Linked DNA regions of Homo sapiens. The protein of the gene in region 1 interacts with the protein of each later gene in a pairwise test. Each region holds a gene or a part of one and is shown in the gene's direction. Other genes may lie near its edges. The genes, in order: RNF32, RPP30, TRIM74, GCDH and MNAT1.

Region 1 (3,524 bases):
TTGTTAAGGTTTTCCTAGGGCCCCCTTGGCCAAGAGGGGGTTCGTTCTGTTGCTGGGGGCCTTAGGATTTTTTTTTTTTTTTGAGACGGAGTCTCGCTCAGCTGCCCAGGCTGGAGTGCAGTGGCACGATCTTGGCTCACTGCAACCATCGTTTCCCGAGTTCAAGCAATTCTCCTATCTCAACCTCTTGAGTAGCTGGGATTACAGGCACCCGCCATCATGCCCAGCTAATTTTTGTATTTTTTAGTAGACACAGGGATTCCCCATGTTGGCCAGGCAGGTCCTGAACTCCCAGCTTCAGGTGATCTGCCTGCCTTGGCCTCCCAAAGTGCTGGGATTACAGGTGAGAGCCACCATGGCCTGGCCAGGATTTTATTTTTAGCTTACAGCAATGACCCACCACATGTATACAGTTAACAGAAACGTAACTTTCGCAAAGCAAAATCTGCTTTCACTGCAGGCACCACACTGTGTTCATTTTTATTCCACTTCGTTTCCAAAGTGCTGGGCCTACTACATTAATGTTATGGGTCACTGATGGGTTGTAGATATCAGCAGTCTGCATTATCAATAACTGCCACCTTAAACATAATACAAGTGACCGTGTTATCTGCTGAACTGTAATCTTACCTCATTCAAGTTTCAAGTGTGGGGGTGGGGAGGAACAGATGTATACATATACGCACACACACTCAGATCATAGTGAGGTTATACTCATAATTTGTTACATGAATAGGGATCCTATCATGTAACTCTTGCTCACTTAACTCATTTGGCCATAAACACTTGAAATCTGTAAACTCAGATCTCATGTTAAATAAATGAAGATTGAACTTACTGTAAAATAGTGTATTAGCAGTAGGTAGTAGGTGCCTATATGGGTCCATGCCCTATGTGCTTGTATGCCTGTATGGGTAGAACTCAACAGCTGTCCTTTATAATAAAGACCACTTCTTAATCATTTACCAAATGACCTCACCATTTGATGCTTTTTTTCTACCTTTCCAACTTAATAAACTCATTCTGTGAGCGATGGGAATCCTCTGAGAAATGTTAATCTACAATTTTAGAATGCCCTGCATATTTAATGGAATCCAAAAGGTTACTGAACTAGGTTATTGAATTTCACATTACCCAGGTGTGATGGTTAATTTATGTGTCAACTTGACTGGGCTAAGGGATGCTCAGGTTATCTGGTTAAACATTATTGCTGGGTGTGCCTGTGGGTATTTCCAGATGAGCTGAGCATTTGAATCAGTGGACTCAGTAAAGTGAATTGCGTGTGTACACAGGCACAGTCTCACTCTCTTGCGTGTGCTTTCTCTCTGTCTCTGCCTGACTGCTTGACCTGGGACGTTGGTTTTCTGTAGATACACAGAAAGGGAGGTGTACCCATATAAATAGAAATCATTTTAAAATTACAAAATTGTTGTATACAACTTTATGCAATAGAAGTGAAAATATAATTGAAATTACTTCCTGTAAAAATAGCAAACGTGGAAAGAAATTTAAAGTATGAAATGACTGAAAAAAATTATATGAGCATCTCCGTTTTTACTGAAAAGATATTAAATAAAATTTAACAGCCATTCTTTTTTTTTTTTTTTTTTGAGGCACAGTCTCGCTCTGTCACCCAGGCTGGAGTGCAGTGGCGCGATCTCGGCACACTGCAACCTCCGCCTCCCAGGTTCAGGCCATTCTCCTGCCTCAGCCTCCCAAGTAGCTGGGACTACAGGCGCCCACCACCATGCCCGGCTAATTGTAGAGATGAGGTTTCACCATGTTAGCCAGGATGGTCTCGATCTCCTGATCTCGTGATCCACCAGCCTCGGCCTCCCAAAGTGCTGGGATTACAGGCGTGAGCCACTGCACCCGGCCTTAACAGCCATTCTTAATAATGAAAGACACTAGAACTAGAATGAAATTTCCTTGTCACATTAAAAACTATGTGTCAAATACTAAAAACACATTGTTTTAGAGAGTAAAAAACCATAAAGAAAACTAGGTTACTTACTGTCATCACACTTGAGCCAATCCTTGCCAATAACACATGAAAACAAAATATATGTGTGTGCACATATGTGTATATGTTATGCATATTATATAAATCCACACATGTATATTACAATTTTACATTATATTTATATTAAAATAAGCCAAACAAGGAATGTACCACACTGATAAGAAAAAATTTTTTCTGATGGAATAAAAGGCTTGAATAAAATGACAGACATTTTACACTGGAATGAGTAAAAATGTCCACTTACTTTATATAAATTTAATGTAGTTTCTAACTCCCAAAGGAGTAGGATTGGCTGTGCATTTAGGACTTTACAGGTTAACTCTAAAGTTTATCTAAAGAGGTATGAAGAGCTAATAATTTTTTTAAAAGACAGATTGATGAGATAGAACAGCCTTGTTAGATATCAAAATATATAAATTTGGCAACTAAGATTCTTGGGGAATAATAGACAAACAATGAAACAGTAGAAAGTCACACATCTCAGCATACAGGAAATTTTAGTGTACTAAAGAAGGTATTTCAGACCAGTGGAGAAAAAAATTATTTGAGAAAAATCAATTGGGAAATTGAGTTCATTCATCTGAAGGGGGTTAAAGAACACTGCTTTATGCGTTACTGCCAAGAACATTCCACACGGATTACACTCTCAAATACATTTTAATGGATACATGAAATTAATGGAGTCAAATAGCTTCCTGGGTGCCTGCTCTCTGCCTGTGCTTTGTTAGTCAGGGGAGATAACGAGGGAACAGACAAAACACCACAATCCTAGCAGAACGTGTGCAGCTCAGAGCGGGGAGAGAGCCTGGATCTCAGATTCTGCTCCAGTGCACACGGCACATTGCGTGATTGCCACCGTGGCTTTTACAACGTTCTGAAGGCTATAGAAAAACATTGCAAGGGCCGGGCGCGGTGGCTCACGCCTGTAATCCCAGCACTTTGGGAGGCTGAGGCGGGGGCATCACGTGAGGTCGGGAGTTCGAGACCAGCCTGACCAACATGGAGAAACCCCTTCTCTACTAAAAATACAATATTAGCCGGGCGTGGTGGCGCACGCCTGTAATCCCAGCTACTCAGGAGGCTGAGGCAGGAGAATAGCTTGCACCCGGGAGGCAGAGGTTGCAGTGAGCCAAGATCGTGCCATTGCACTCCAGCCTGGGCGACAAGAGTCAAACTCCATCCAAAAAAAAAAGAAAGAAAAAGAAAAACACTGCAAGAGCACACTAGGTGGTAATTTGTCCTGGTTGACAAGGCAAAATGATCATCTTGATTTACATGTTTGGTACAAGTGGAGAATTTCCTTGTATATATTATATATTAATGTTTAGGGGTTGCATCTATTTTATTGTTCTTTTTTAAAGATGTAATCAATGAGTAGAATATTTTACAGCTCAAAACTGGAAGAGCTTAATAATAAATGTGAGACAAATAATACACGGACCCTATCTTAGTAAAGAAAGTCATCATCATCCTCAGATGCCTTTAGAAAAGACTCTTTTCA
Region 2 (3,524 bases), on another chromosome or scaffold:
AATTATGCTGATAATATCCTTTTTTTCTCCCCTCCCCCCGCAAAAGTTGTTTTTATTTTGATTTGGTACCCACAAGGGTCTAGAAATTTAGATTCAGTCAATTAGGAATATTTCGAGATCTAAGCATCCAACTCTATATATCATTCACCTCTTTCATTTATTTCCCCTCTTCATCATCCTGTTGCCTTGTATTATCGTTCCACAACTAGAAGGATAAGGAAAAGAAATACAGGTCAGCCTCTTCAGCTAATTAGTAGTTTTGGTAAAATATATAGCCAAGGAGATGGCTGATAATATGGCTAAAAGGGATGTTTTTACTTATCTGTGGTTTTTGGTTAGCCAGGTGCACCGAGGTTCCTTTGATGATGGATCATCTATAATGAACAACGTTATCACAGGACATCTTCTCCATAAGCTGCTATTTATTCACTCAAAATATAAATATATTATACACCTTTTATGTAAAAGGCAGTCTAGCTCTCAAGAAGTGTGCAAGCTTGGCAGAGCCAATGAGATACACGTTCAACTAGGACAGAAATACTATCTTAACAAATGTCATTCCCAGAAATAATCAACACAGGTGAAAGAATTAGAGATGGGGAAAAGTCAAAAAATGAGAGAGGGAAAGGTTGCAGTGTGGAAAATAGCATTTAAATTCTAACCAAACTAGAATCAGACATATAGGAAAATCTAAAATAAAATCTGGGAGCCTTGAAGCCGGAGGAAGAATTAAGGAAATCTGTGTTCGGGAGGGAAAAGCAGAAGGGGCCTTCAAGTACAACTGAATTAAATCAAGATGGACTGCCAGTTCTAGAAAAAGACAAGTTTCTCCATTCCCCGTAAATGCTCAGGAGTAAACCCCAGTAGTCACAGCTGGGCCAGTCCCAACTTATACTCTGGGCAATCGAAACTCATTTGCCAAGCAGAGACTTGGACCATACTGCCTAGAACATGCCTACCATTCTTTCTTTATTCTTTTGAAAGAGTACTGCCACTCAAGTGACTTTTGCAATTGAGAGTCTGATTATCATCTCTATGCTGAAAATCCTTCAGATGTTTTCTCCATTAGGAATAATCCTCATCACCAGCTCTAAAGGCCTGCACAGTTGGCCCTTCCCATCCTCTTTAGCCTGTCTTCCTCATTATTTTTCTCCAGCATTTGACCTTCCCTACGTGCTGCCATGCTGCAACCTTGAAGACTTTTGCATGCTCTGACCTCCCTCTGAAAGTGCACCTTCCTCTACTATTTAACTGCTTAATTTCTTCCTCAACCCTAAACTTCTCCTTGATAGCACTTAACACAGTTGAAGTTTTGTATTTTTGTGTGGTTATTGATCATCTCCCCCACTAAAATGTAAGCTTTTAGAAGGGAGAAACCATCTCAGCTTTTGCACGTAGTGGGCTTAAAACATCTTTTGTGAATGGATGCAGACATTTAGGTGCTCATTAGGAAAGCTGAACAGTATGGTGGTTAATTTCAATATCATTTCCACTCATCTACTTACCTGTGGATCCCTCTGTAGTAAGAGTACATTAAATAAAGAAGTTTCTGTTTCTCATGAAAAAAGCCAAGCTTGTATGGTGAGCTGGGCAAAATCTTCAAGGGCACTTCCATCTTTTTTGCTGTGCGGCTATAAGCCCAGTGAAAAATCAGGGGCTTTATTACTAAAGAAAAAGGAGAGGACAGATATCTGGGCAATTTGCAGGCTTTGCAGTAATGCTTTATAAAGGTATTGTAGTAAGGATTAAATATTATATATAAGACTCTCTTAGCATATAGTCAGCACTCAATTAACTATGGCTGTTATTCTCTCTTCAACATATAGAGAATAAATTACTTACCTGAAAGACCTTCCTGCCCTTGGTTCTTTGGGCTTTTTTCAGCTCTTCATTTCTTTGTCTCTTTGTGCATTCATAGGTCAGATTACTTGGTTTACTATGTTTGTATACAGTTTACTGTAAATGTAGGGAGTACATTTCTGTTTTCCTTTTGATAGTTCATGGAGTAGTAGCCCCTCTCTCACGCCATTGGGACTTTGTTCTTCTTAGCCTCTTCATAATTCCTGTTTATGTAAAGTCAGCTTCCCCACAGCCAAGTTAAACTCTCTTAATCAAGTAGAGCCACGGATTTATTTTCTTCTCCTTGTGGGTGGTGCCATTTGAGTGTTGATCTGTCTTTCATAAAGCTGTACCTTGACATGTAAGGGGTCAGTAGTAGGGAGTGAGGAGGGATGTGAAGAGAGAATCAGTGAAAATGAAGTAGGCCAGTGCATGCTTATCTCTGACAGTTCTCTTTATTTCCTGTGAAGGCGATTGACCGAGGCCTGGCTTTTGAACTTGTCTATAGCCCTGCTATCAAAGACTCCACAATGAGAAGGTATACAATTTCCAGTGCCCTCAATTTGATGCAAATCTGCAAAGGAAAGGTATGGTTCTATAATTTTAGGATGTTTTTCGCATCTGGCAGTTTATTATTAGTAGTACACTGGAATTGTCAAACTGACTCCTTTTCCTTAAAGCAGAATGTTCTCATAGCATAGGAACAAATTCTGCCATTTCAGTGAGCTCTGCAAATTTTAAGGGAAAGAAAAATACCAAGGGAAGAATAATGTAAGGGAGAAAAAGATGTGTTGGAAGCCATATCTTTTGATAAAAATTTGCAATTTACATACTGTGAAAGAAAAGTCTAGAATAACAATGGTCCTCACTGAGTTGAATTAAGATATGTGACCTTTTCATCTTGTTTTTTAAACTTAATTCACCTTTACTAAGATCTGTTAGGAAAACATATTTTGTTTTTTATTACAGATTGCCTTTAGTTTGACATGAAGTCTTTTCATTTTTTTCACCTTAATTATTTACCTTATCTTTAAAAGAAGTTGGTATTTGAGCCTTAAATGTTAAAATATGATTACTGGCTATTTATATTATGAAACTCCTTTTTTTACATTTATCTAAGATTAATATTAGTCACTTTCTATTTTGTAGAATGTAATTATATCTAGTGCTGCAGAAAGGGTAAGTCTAGCATGAAGTACTTTGTTTTCATCTTTCAGGTTATAAAACTTTTCAGTTTCTAGGGGATAAATTAAAATAGTAAATGAATATTTGTTGCATTTTTTTCTATTTTAACTGCATTTGCTCATTGTAATTGCTAAATAGTAAAATTTATCCCCACTTTCTTTAGGCTTCAACTTTTGTTTATATAATCAGTTTTTCTTTTATACTGTTACAAAATGCCTTTCAAGCTTCTCTTATATTTTCAAAAGCTATGAAACCCATCAAAATTATAAGGACTTAAATTTATGTAATTTTTTTATTTTTGGATACTTAAATTTTCTATTAATTTGCTATAAGTCATTGAAATGTTATAAATAATTTTCTCATATCTACTCTTTGTTCATTTTATTTCAGCCTTTAGAAATAAGAGGGCCATATGACGTGGCAAATCTGTATCCTTTTCTGAGTAAAAAGTTGTTGACATTGTCTTTCAGGAAATTTTGAATTTGAAGTCGTATTATAGT
Region 3 (3,524 bases), about 84 Mb from region 1:
GGTTAAACCCAGGCCCGTGTGAGCACCACTGGCCCTAGAATTAGCCTCACCTGGCGCCGGCCTTTTTGTGATGGCTCCTGATTAAATACCCACTAATTCTGGATCTGCTGGTGACCACAGAGTTCACCTGATGGGTCCCCTACAGGCAGCATTCAATCCAGGAAGTGCCAGCATCACATGGTGACTTCTGGTAGCTGTAACATTTAGTGACTGTCTCCATGTCATGCACAGGGGTGACATCGAGACCCTCTTATGCCTGGGAAGTTCCTGCTGTCAATGCAGAATATTCTCTTTTTTTTTTTTTTTTTTTGAGACGGAGTCTCGCTCTGTCGCCCAGGCTGGAGTGCAGTGGGCGATCTCGGCTCACTGCAAGCTCCGCCTCCCAGGTTCACGCCATTCTCCTGCCTCAGCCTCCCGAGTAGCTGGGACTACAGGCGCCCGCTACCACGCCCGGCTAATTTTTTGTATTTTTAGTAGAGACAGGGTTTCACTGTGTTAGCCAGGATGGTTTCGATCTCCTGACCTCGTGATCCGCCCGCCTCAGCCTCCCAGAGTGTTGGGATTACAGGCGTGAGCCACCGCGCCCGGCCCAGAATATTCTTTGAAGAAAAAAAAAACATTAGAGATGGGATTTCACTGTGTTGCCCAGTCTGGTCTCAAATTCCTAGCCTCAAGTGATCCTCCCATCTTGGCCTCCTAAAGTGCTGGGATTACAGGCATGAGCCACTGTGCCCAGCCTAGAATATTCTTTTTTTTTTTTCTTGAGATGGAGTCTTGCTCTGTTGCCCAGGCTGGAGTGCTGTGGCGCAATCTCGGCTCACTGCAACCTCCTCCTCCCAAGTTCATGCCATTCTCCTGACTCAGCCTCCGGAGTAGCTGGGACTACAGGTGCCCGCCACCATGCCCGGCTAATTTTTTTTGTATTTTTAGTAGAGACAGGGTTTCACTGTGTTAGCCAGGATGGTCTCGATCTCCTGACCTCGTGATCAGCCAGCCTCGGCCTCCCAAAGTGCTGGGATTACAGGCGTGAGCCACCGCGCCCGGCCCTTAGAATATTCTTGAATTATCTTATTTTTTATTTTTATTTTTTGAGACAGAGTCTCACTGTGACACCCAGGCTGGAGTGCAATGGCATGATCTCAGCTCACTGCAACATCAATCTCCCAGGTTCAAGCGATTCTCGTGCCTCAGCCTCCCAAGTAGCTGGGACTACAGGTGTGTGCCACCACACCTGGCTAATTTTTGTATTTTCAATAGAAATGGGGTTTCACCATGTTGGCCAGGCTAGTCTCAAACTCCTGACCTCAAGTGAAGTCCCACCTCAGTCTCCCAAAGTGCTGGAATTACAGGCGTGAGCTACTGCGCCCAGACTATTCTTGAACAATTTAACCTGTTTTGGACTCAAGGGTACCTGGGTGGCTCTGGTTCCCGCCCTGGTTTCCCTGGGAGTGCTTGTGGCCATTGGGATACTCCCAAGAAGGTGATCCAAGGAGCTGAGAAGGGGAGGGATCAGCTGCTCATGGGGCCATGGCCTGTTGCCTCCAGGAGGAGCTCGCAGCCCTCTTCTCTGAGCTGAAGCAGGAGCAGAAGAAGGTGGATGAGCTCATCGCCAAACTGGTGAAAAACCGGACCCGAATCGTCGTGAGTGCCCCTTCCCTCTGCCCCTGCCTGGGACCGGCCACCTTCACTTTCCTGTAGAGCTCAGTTCTCATTGGTCCTTTACAGAAAACCATGCCTTCCATATAAAGCCAGAACTCAAAGCATTCCGGGGCGGGGTGGGGAAAGCGCAAATCCTCTCAGGGGAATTCAACCCAGTTGTCGTTAGGACTGGCTCCAAGTTGGCTTTTGCCCTCTGTGTCCTTGAGACTGAGATAACCCAGGACTTGAGTCTCGGGGGTAAACAGCTGAAAGCATGGGCGTGACTCCTCCGCCCCTGTGCCACCTGTGTCTGCTTGACCTTGCCAGCCTGTCATGGTGCCCTCCCAGTACCTGGGTGCGCAGGCGTGGAGAGGCTGGCAGCCCTGGGCCCTGGCTGATCTCCTGAACTGAGAGGCACATGGGGCTGGGACGCATAGTGCCCCGGCCCTGGAGGTGGCTGTGAAACAGAAACAGGAGCCGAGCAAGATCCAGAAGCACTTGGCCTCCCTCATTTACCCTCCTCACCCTTGCGCGGCAGGCGGTATCAGCCCTGCCTGGTGGAGGCGGAGCTCAGGGTTCTGCAGGGAGTTCTGGCTCCCTCACAGCAAAGCCCGCTCGCCCAGGGCCTTCCTGCTTTCCTTCAGTTGTGGAACTCTGGGATATGCACATTTAATAGCTGAAATAGGCAAAGTGGGGTGTGGTGGCGTGCATCTGTAATCCCAGCAACTCGGGAGGCTGAGGCGGGAGGATTGCTTGAGGCTGGGAGGTCAAGGCTACAGTGAGCTATGATCGTGCCACTGCGCTCCAGCCTGGGCAACAGAGTGAGACCCTGTCTGTTAAAAAAAAAATTAAAAATTAAAACAGGCCAAAGCAGAGCCTCTCCATTTGAAATGGGAGCTGGGGCCACCCTCCCCACGGCCACCGCCAGGGCTCCCCATGCATGGGGTGAACTCCCTGCCCGGCGCCAGGCCATGCAGCCTCCCCTGAGACTCAGGTCCCAGGACCAACCCGGTCAGGAAGGCCCTGGGGACACCGAGGCCAGCCAGACAGAGCCTGGCAGCTCGGCTGTGACTCTGCAGTGAGCAGCCCTCCCTGTCCCAGAATGAGTCGGATGTCTTCAGCTGGGTGATCCGCCGCGAGTTCCAGGAGCTGCGCCACCCGGTGGACGAGGAGAAGGCCCGCTGCCTGGAGGGGATAGGGGGTCACACCCGTGGCCTGGTGGCCTCCCTGGACATGCAGCTGGAGCAGGCCCAGGGAACCCGGGAGCGGCTGGCCCAAGCCGAGTGTGTGCTGGAACAGTTCGGAAATGAGGACCACCATGAGTTCATCTGGGTGAGTGGACAGGGAGGCGTCCCATCCCCATACCCGCCAGGGCCTTCCCCTTCCCAACAGTGCCCTGGCTTCCCACCTTCTAGCCTTAACCTCCCTCTCTCTTGCCTTCCAGAAGTTCCACTCCATGGCCTCCAGGTAATAACCTTGGAGAGAGCTCAGCCAGGGTCTGGTGGCTGCGGGCACGGGCATCTCAGCTCCACTGGTTCCTCCATTCAGCTTAACCAGCGCCTCCCAAGCAGCTGCCTATAGCTGGCTCTATAACTGAGCCTGGGGAAGATAGAGGAAAGTCACGTCCCTGCCTTCAAGGGTCTCGCAGACAGGTGGGGAGGCAGATGGTGAACTGTGGGTACCTAGAACAGCAGAAGTTCACTCAAGCTACAGAAATACTAGAGGAGGGTAGCTCATGCCTGCAATCCCAGTACTTTGGGAGGCCAAGGCAGGAGTATTGCTGGAGGCCGGGAGTTCGAGACCAGCCTGGCCAATGTAGTAACACCCCCGTCTCTACAAAAAATACAAAAATAAAAAAATTAGTTGGGCATGGTGGCATGCGCCTA
Region 4 (3,170 bases), on another chromosome or scaffold:
GAACCAGCTGATTCAGAAGAAGCTGGCAGACATGCTCACTGAGATTACCCTGGGCCTTCACGCCTGCCTGCAGCTCGGCCGCTTGAAGGACCAGGACAAGTAGGGGCTGTGTGGTGGGGGCGGGGGGATGGCAGCGGTGGCTGGAGGACCTTGTGTCCTTCCTGGAGAGAAAGGTCCTTCCTGCCTGGTGGCCCTGGGGACCTGAACCTTCTGCTGTCCCTCTTGTCCTTGATGGGCTGGGCTGAGGACAGCCCCACTGGTCCCTCATTGGGAGCTTGGCTGCATCAGGGAATCCCCACCCCGGGCTAGGTTTGCTTGGAGCATCGGGATGCCAGGATCCCCAGTCCTTGTTACCCTCATGTGCCACTCCCAGGGCTGCCCCCGAGATGGTTTCTCTGCTGAAGAGGAATAACTGTGGGAAAGCCCTGGACATCGCCCGCCAGGCCCGAGACATGCTGGGGGGGAATGGGATTTCTGACGAGTATCACGTGATCCGGCACGCCATGAACCTGGAGGCCGTGAACACCTACGAAGGTAGGAGCTGGACCTCAGAGGGCTCACTGAGGCCTCAGTGTCTGGGGAGGGGGTACAGGGAGGTGGGACGGGGACAGGTCTGAGTCCAACTCCACCTATCACTAAGTGACAGTGTGACCTGGGGCGAGCCTTACCCCTCTGTCCCTCATCTGGAGTTACTCACATGGGGACTGTGGAAGTGAAGTGCTTCATGCAGCACACAGAGGCCCCATCAGGCCTTGCGAGGGGCTCCCAGCTCTTTCTCCCACATGCTCGGGAGGAGGGATGTTCCTGAGACAGGTAAGCTCCGAAGGCAGCCCAGGGGTGAGGCCCGACTCCTAGCAGGCTGGTGGACGCAAGGGAGTGAGCGAAGCTACACGCAGGAATCAACGCTCCATTTTGTTAAGAGACAAAAGTCATCTTCAGATGACGGTGTTTGCACCCTGTAACTGATGGTGATTTACATGGGGGTCCAGAACCCCTTGCTTGGTGGGAAGACAGATGTGGAAAAAGATACTTAAAAAAAAAAAAAAAGTGCAAACCCAGCATGCGCTATGTAGAAATAGAGGGAGGTATGAGGACCCCCCGGGCAGAGATGCTTCCAGACAGAGAGAACAGCAAATGCAGGAGGGGTGCCTTCCCTGCGCACCTTGCAACCCCAGATCTTGTCTCTATCTGGCATCTGGGGGGTGGGGGGATCCTACAAATGTGAGAATGACCCTGAGGACAAGCAGCGGGCGCCATGAGATGGTTTTATGCAGAGAAGGGATGAGTCAGATTTGGTGCTTTAGGGGCTCGGCGCAGTGGCTCACACCTGTAATCCCAGCGCTTTGGGAGGCTAAGGCAGGAGGATTGCTTGAGCCCAGGAGTTAGAAGTTATGATGAGCTATGATCACCCCACTGCACTCCAGCCTGGGTGACAGAGTGAGACCCTATCTATATTTAAAAAAAATAGGTTTGTACTTTAGGAAGTAAACAGAATTGGCTCTAAAAAGGAGGCTACAATCTGCCTTCTGCTTCAAGGAGCTGGGGAGGAGCAAAGGATGAGACACCAGGGCATGGGGTGTGGGATTCTCTGGGAGAGGCGGCTTCAGATGGGCAGAGGTCAGCTGAGGCAAGTGACTGCTCTTCCGATGTGCTGTCCCTCCTATCCCTCCCGAGGGTAAGAAAGGGCTTGCTGTGTTTCCTTGGAGCTCAGGGGTGCTTTCAGCCTCTGTGGCAAGGAAGCGTGGCCAGGTTGAAAATCAAACATTTAATAAACTGTGGGGCTGGGGGTGGGGAGAACTTGCCAAGGGTGGGGAGCACGAAGCCTGGGCCTATGGCAGGGGCTGGACTTGCTACATTTTGGGAGTTCAGCACAAGGAGCTTTGGGTTTTTGTTTTTTTCTGCCAAGATGCATTATAGAACCATGAAAAACAATTTCTCAGTGTGGCCCAAATGGTGGCCTCACAGTCTTCTCCTGGAGACTGTCACTAAGGCGTGAGTCTCCCGGCAGCTGTCAGCATTCACCATCTCTGTTGGTCTGTACTTCTGAAGCAGTGGCCTGGGGATACATGAAAATTGATTTTAAAGGGAAGTTGTGAGCTATGAAAACTCCAAACCGACTCTGTATTAATCTTGTCCAGGTACACATGACATTCACGCCCTGATCCTTGGGAGAGCTATCACGGGAATCCAGGCGTTCACGGCCAGCAAGTGAGCCGCTCCATCAGGGGCCCGAAACTCTCAAGCCCCTTTCTGGAGAGATGCCTGGCTGGACCGTAGGAGCGCTGTGCTCTGAGCTTAGAAAGGGAGGTGGCGGATGGAGTGGGAAGTGAGAGACACTGATTTTTAAATATCAAAATTTCCCTTCTGAAGTCGTTCAGATGTGTTCCTTAAAAAGAAGATGGAATTCTCTGTAGAGCGTCTCAATCCACTTTTAACCATGGATGAGAGCAGACTCCATTTACCCTGAAATAGCAGCTTCTCTTGAGAGGAGAGTGACATGGAAGCAACTCCGTCTGCTGCAGCTGACCCCCTCACACTGAGTTCACAGTGCGCCCTCCCTCCCTCCCATCTGGGGGTAGTGCCTTATGCTGGGTGTTGGAGCAGAGTGAGGGAGAGGAAAATAAAGACCTGCACATCTGACCCCAAGGTGTCAGGCCGGTTTACTGGTAACCACCTGAGAAGTAGTTTCAGCCACAGAAGAAACGAACACGTCTGGGGGCTGTGAGTTGCCGGGACGTGGTGGGGACTTTCCCCTAGAGTGGTCTGGCCCCCATCTGAGTCTTAGGCTCTGCTGTAAAAAAGAAACCCAGGTTAGCAGTGCCGGTCTGTGCCAGGGCTGTGGGCAGAGGGGATGATTTCTGAGTGGCAGGGGTGCAAGGGACTTTGTCCTTTCTGTCACCACAGAGCTGCTCATACAACAGTGGGACATGACAACGGTTTGGCTTCTCAGCTCAGACACACCATGTTATAGGGGATCACAAACAAGATGGTGAGTGCACCAAGGGCTTTGCAGGGACTGTGGCCTGGCGGGGTCAGGGCTGGGTGCCTGGTTTCTGTTCACATTTACTCTTGGCTGGGCCATCCCTGTCCTCTTCCTCAGGCAGCGCCCCCCCTGTGAGTTTACTCATACCTCAGGCTGGAGACACAGGTCTTTGTACACAGTCTCCACG
Region 5 (3,524 bases), on another chromosome or scaffold:
ACAGGCATGGTTGTTCCTACCTGTAATCCTAGCTACTTGGGAGGCTGAGGAGGGAGGGTTCGAGACCAACTTGGACAACATAGGGAAACCCTATCCTTTTTTTTTTTTTTTGAGAAGGAGTCTCGCTCTGTCGCCCAGGCTAGAGTGCAGTGGCGCAATCTCGGCTCACTGCAAGCTCCGCCTCCCGGGTTCACGCCATTGTCCTGCCTCAGCCTCCCGAGTAGCTGGGACTACAGGCGCCCGCTACCACGCCCGGCTAATTTTTTTGTATTTTTAGTAGAGACGGGGTTTCAGCGTGTTAGCCAGGAGGGAAACCCTATCTTACAAAAAAAAAAAAAAAAAGATCTTGTCAATTATGTTACCAACAACTGTATGGAGATTCCTATTGCCACACAACTTTGCCTATATTGGCTAATATTATTTTTTAAAATCTTGCATTTTAAAAGATGTTTAAAAGCATCTTATCAGATGCTTTTCTGATAAGAAAAACATCTTGGATTTTTTTTTTTTTTTTTTTTGAGACGAAGTTTTGCTCTGTCACACAAGCTGGAGTGCCGTGGCATGATCTAGGCTCACTGCAACCTCCACCTCCCAGGTTCAAGTGATTCTCCTGCCTCAGACTCCCGAGTAGCTGGGACTACAGTCGCATGCCACCATGCCCGGCTAATTTTTGTATTTTTAGTAGAGACGGGGTTTCACTATGTTGGCCAGGCTGGTCTCGAACTACTGACTTCGTGATCCAGCCGCCTCGATCCTCCCAAAGTGCTGGGATTACAGGTGTGAGCCACTGCGCCCGGCCTGAGATGGAGTTTTGCTCTTGTTGCCCAGGCTGGAGTGCAATGGCGTGATAGCTCACCACAACCTCTGCCTCCCGGGTTCAAGCAGTTCTCCTGTCTCAGCCTTCCGAGTAGCTGGGATTACAGACATGCGCCACTACCTCTGGCTAATTTTGTAGTTTTAGTAGAGATGGGGTTTCTCCATGTTGGTCAGGCTGGTCTTGAACTCCCGACCTCAGGTGATCCACCCGCTTTGGCATCCCAAAGTGCTGAGATTACAGGCGTGAGCCACCGTGTCCAGCCTCATTTTGGCTCTTAATGAAAAATTTTTTGATAGTTTGTTGAGTTTTTATGGCATATATTTCATGGGATTGAATATAGGCATTTTTATAATATGCTTGTTAGTCTGAGAAGAGCAGGTATTATTTTGCTGAATGATTCTGGCTCGGTCTTAGGATGTTGTAATCAAGTTGTTGGCTAGGACTGCAGTCTAGATTTGACTGGGCCTGGAGTATCTGTTTCCAAGGTCACTCATGTGGCTCTTGTCAGGAGGCTTCAGTTCCTCCCCATGGACTCTTCCATAGGGCTACTTATGACGTGGCTTCTCCCAGAACTAGTGATATGAGCGGAGGTAAGGAAGATTGGAGAGATGGATGGGAGAAGAGAGAAAGGGAGGGAGGAAGGGAACTGGAAGCTGTAGAGCCTTTTAAAACCTAATGATAGAAGTGATATACCATCACCTCTGGTGTTTTGTAGTGTTATAATGTGGGAGAGTACACACAAGAGTGTGAATACCAAGAGTGTGAATATCATTGGGCTATCTTGAAGGCTGGCTTCCGCAGGATTTTATTAACTTATTTTTTTTTTTTTCATGTCCTCAAGTAGCAAAGACTTTTTGGAGGCAAGTGATAAAGTGAGTAGGAGTAGTGCTTCATAAAAGAGGAACTATAGGGTTATGGAAAAATTAACTAGGAGTTTTACTTATGGGAGAAAATACAGGAGCAGAGAGGAGAGAAAAGAGGTGAAACATTATTAAATACCTTTGTCTCTTAGCTGCTAGCAATTGAAGAAGCATATTTCCCTACTTATCAATTTAATCTAGCAAATGCACAAATGAATTGATTGTATGCATATAGAAGAAGATTGGATTTCATGTTCTTTTTTTAATTTTTTCTGTTCAAGGATGAACATTGTCTCAATTACAGAAAATGGTAATTTTTTTTCTTTATCAGGCCACCTATTTCAAGAAATGGGCCTTCCATTCTGAAGGCATATAGAATTAGATGGAGGCAGTGGTATCTAATTCTCATTTAACTACAGCCTTTAATAATTTAATTTCTGTCTGGGTGCAGTGGCTTACGCCTGTAATCCCAGCACTTTGGGAGGCTGAGGCGGGTGGATCACCTGAGGTCAGGAGTTCGAGACCATCCTGGCCAACATAGTGAAACCCCGTCTCTACTAAAAATACAATAATTAGCTGGGTGTGGTGGCATGGGCATGTAATCCCAGGTACTTGGGGAGGCTAAGGCAGGAGAATCACTTGAACCTGGGAGGCAGAGGTTGCAGTGAGCCGAGATCACACCACTGCACTCCAGCCTAGGCTACAGAGCAAGACTCCATCTTAAAAAAAAATTAATTTCTATCCCAACCATTCTTGGCAAAACCTGTCTCTGGAAATTTTATGTGCTAAATCTACTTTTTTCATCACGCACGAGACGCAAAGTACAAGATAAGCAAAATCAAGTACCTACCATCTTGATATATAAAGGCAATGTTTTGTGATAGTTACTTAACATCTTTCTCTTTCTTTTTTTCCCTTTTTTTTCTGTTCTCCTATTTCTCTCTCATTTACTGATGTTACTGGATAGTTTATCCTGAAGAGTCCGAATTTTGCTTATTGCATCTCTGTGATATTGTTAAATATGTTCTTCTGTTCTCAGTATTTCCTCTAAATTGTTAGTTATGTTTAAAAGTTTTATCAGATTAAGTTTGAATTTATTTGTTGATAAGAATAATAAGTGGTGTTAACTCATTTAATATACTGATCTTATTCAGTACCTTTGTGCAAATTGGGAAACAGAGCCCCCTCTGGGTAGAAAATTAGGAAAAGGCACTTATTTTAGGTGGAAGATTTAGAACAGGAACATTCTAGATATATTATTTTATAATTTTCTGTTGTGATAAGAGGATATACTCTATAAAATTTCAGTCTTTTGAAGTTTTCTGAAAGCTTGCTTATGGTCCAGCATATGGCCTGTCTTTGTGAACAATCAGTGTACATTTGAAAAGAATATACATTCTGTGGTTGTTGGGTGTAGTGTAGTATAAGTTATAAACGTGGTACATATTACCATACCCATCTTGGTTGATAGCATTACCAGATCTTCTGTATCTTTATTAATTTATTTTATCTACTCATCTTATGAATTACTCCACTATGATTATAGATTTGTCAGTTTTTCTTGTAAGTTTTGTCATACTTTATGCATTTTGGAACTCTCTTGTTGGGTACATATTTGGGATTGTTATGCCTTCCTAATACATTTCTCCTTTTATCATTATGAAATGGCCCTCTTTGTCTCTTGTAATATGCTTTTTCCTGAAGATTCTGTCTGATAATAATTTGGCACTGTCAGATTTCTTGTGCTTACTATTTGATAGTGTGCATTTTTCCGTTCATTTACTTTAAAAAAATTTTTTAACCCATGTAATATCAGTGGCACAATCATAAACTCCTGGGCTCAAATG

The links.
Region 2: the proteins of RNF32 (region 1) and RPP30 interact in a two-hybrid assay, tested with the Homo sapiens proteins (one study listed by BioGRID).
Region 3: the proteins of RNF32 (region 1) and TRIM74 interact in a two-hybrid assay, tested with the Homo sapiens proteins (one large-scale study listed by BioGRID and IntAct).
Region 4: the proteins of RNF32 (region 1) and GCDH interact in a two-hybrid assay, tested with the Homo sapiens proteins (one study listed by BioGRID and IntAct).
Region 5: the proteins of RNF32 (region 1) and MNAT1 interact in a two-hybrid assay, tested with the Homo sapiens proteins (one large-scale study listed by BioGRID and IntAct).

Annotation. Positions count from the first base shown.
Region 1 is NC_000007.14:156,661,256-156,664,779, forward strand, and holds part of RNF32 (RING finger protein 32), read left to right. Parts: intron 1-3,524. UniProt on the Homo sapiens protein: May play a role in sperm formation.
Region 2 is NC_000010.11:90,892,466-90,895,989, forward strand, and holds part of RPP30 (ribonuclease P protein subunit p30), read left to right. Parts: intron 1-2,309; coding exon 2,310-2,426; intron 2,427-2,988; coding exon 2,989-3,018; intron 3,019-3,414; coding exon 3,415-3,452; intron 3,453-3,524. UniProt on the Homo sapiens protein: Component of ribonuclease P, a ribonucleoprotein complex that generates mature tRNA molecules by cleaving their 5'-ends. Also a component of the MRP ribonuclease complex, which cleaves pre-rRNA sequences.
Region 3 is NC_000007.14:72,959,467-72,962,990, reverse strand, and holds the end of TRIM74 (tripartite motif-containing protein 74), read left to right. Parts: intron 1-1,545; coding exon 1,546-1,641; intron 1,642-2,739; coding exon 2,740-2,970; intron 2,971-3,082; coding exon 3,083-3,109; 3' UTR 3,110-3,506; downstream 3,507-3,524.
Region 4 is NC_000019.10:12,897,330-12,900,499, forward strand, and holds the end of GCDH (glutaryl-CoA dehydrogenase, mitochondrial isoform a precursor), read left to right. Parts: coding exon 1-99; intron 100-373; coding exon 374-534; intron 535-1,456; exon of another isoform or gene 1,457-2,011; coding exon of another isoform or gene 2,012-2,056; intron 2,057-2,138; coding exon 2,139-2,212; 3' UTR 2,213-2,370; coding exon of another isoform or gene 2,371-2,414; 3' UTR 2,415-2,670; downstream 2,671-3,170. Other genes in the region: SYCE2 (synaptonemal complex central element protein 2), read right to left, coding at 2,012-2,056, 2,675-2,791, 3,131-3,170. UniProt on the Homo sapiens protein: Catalyzes the oxidative decarboxylation of glutaryl-CoA to crotonyl-CoA and CO(2) in the degradative pathway of L-lysine, L-hydroxylysine, and L-tryptophan metabolism. It uses electron transfer flavoprotein as its electron acceptor. Isoform Short is inactive.
Region 5 is NC_000014.9:60,737,756-60,741,279, forward strand, and holds part of MNAT1 (CDK-activating kinase assembly factor MAT1), read left to right. Parts: intron 1-3,524.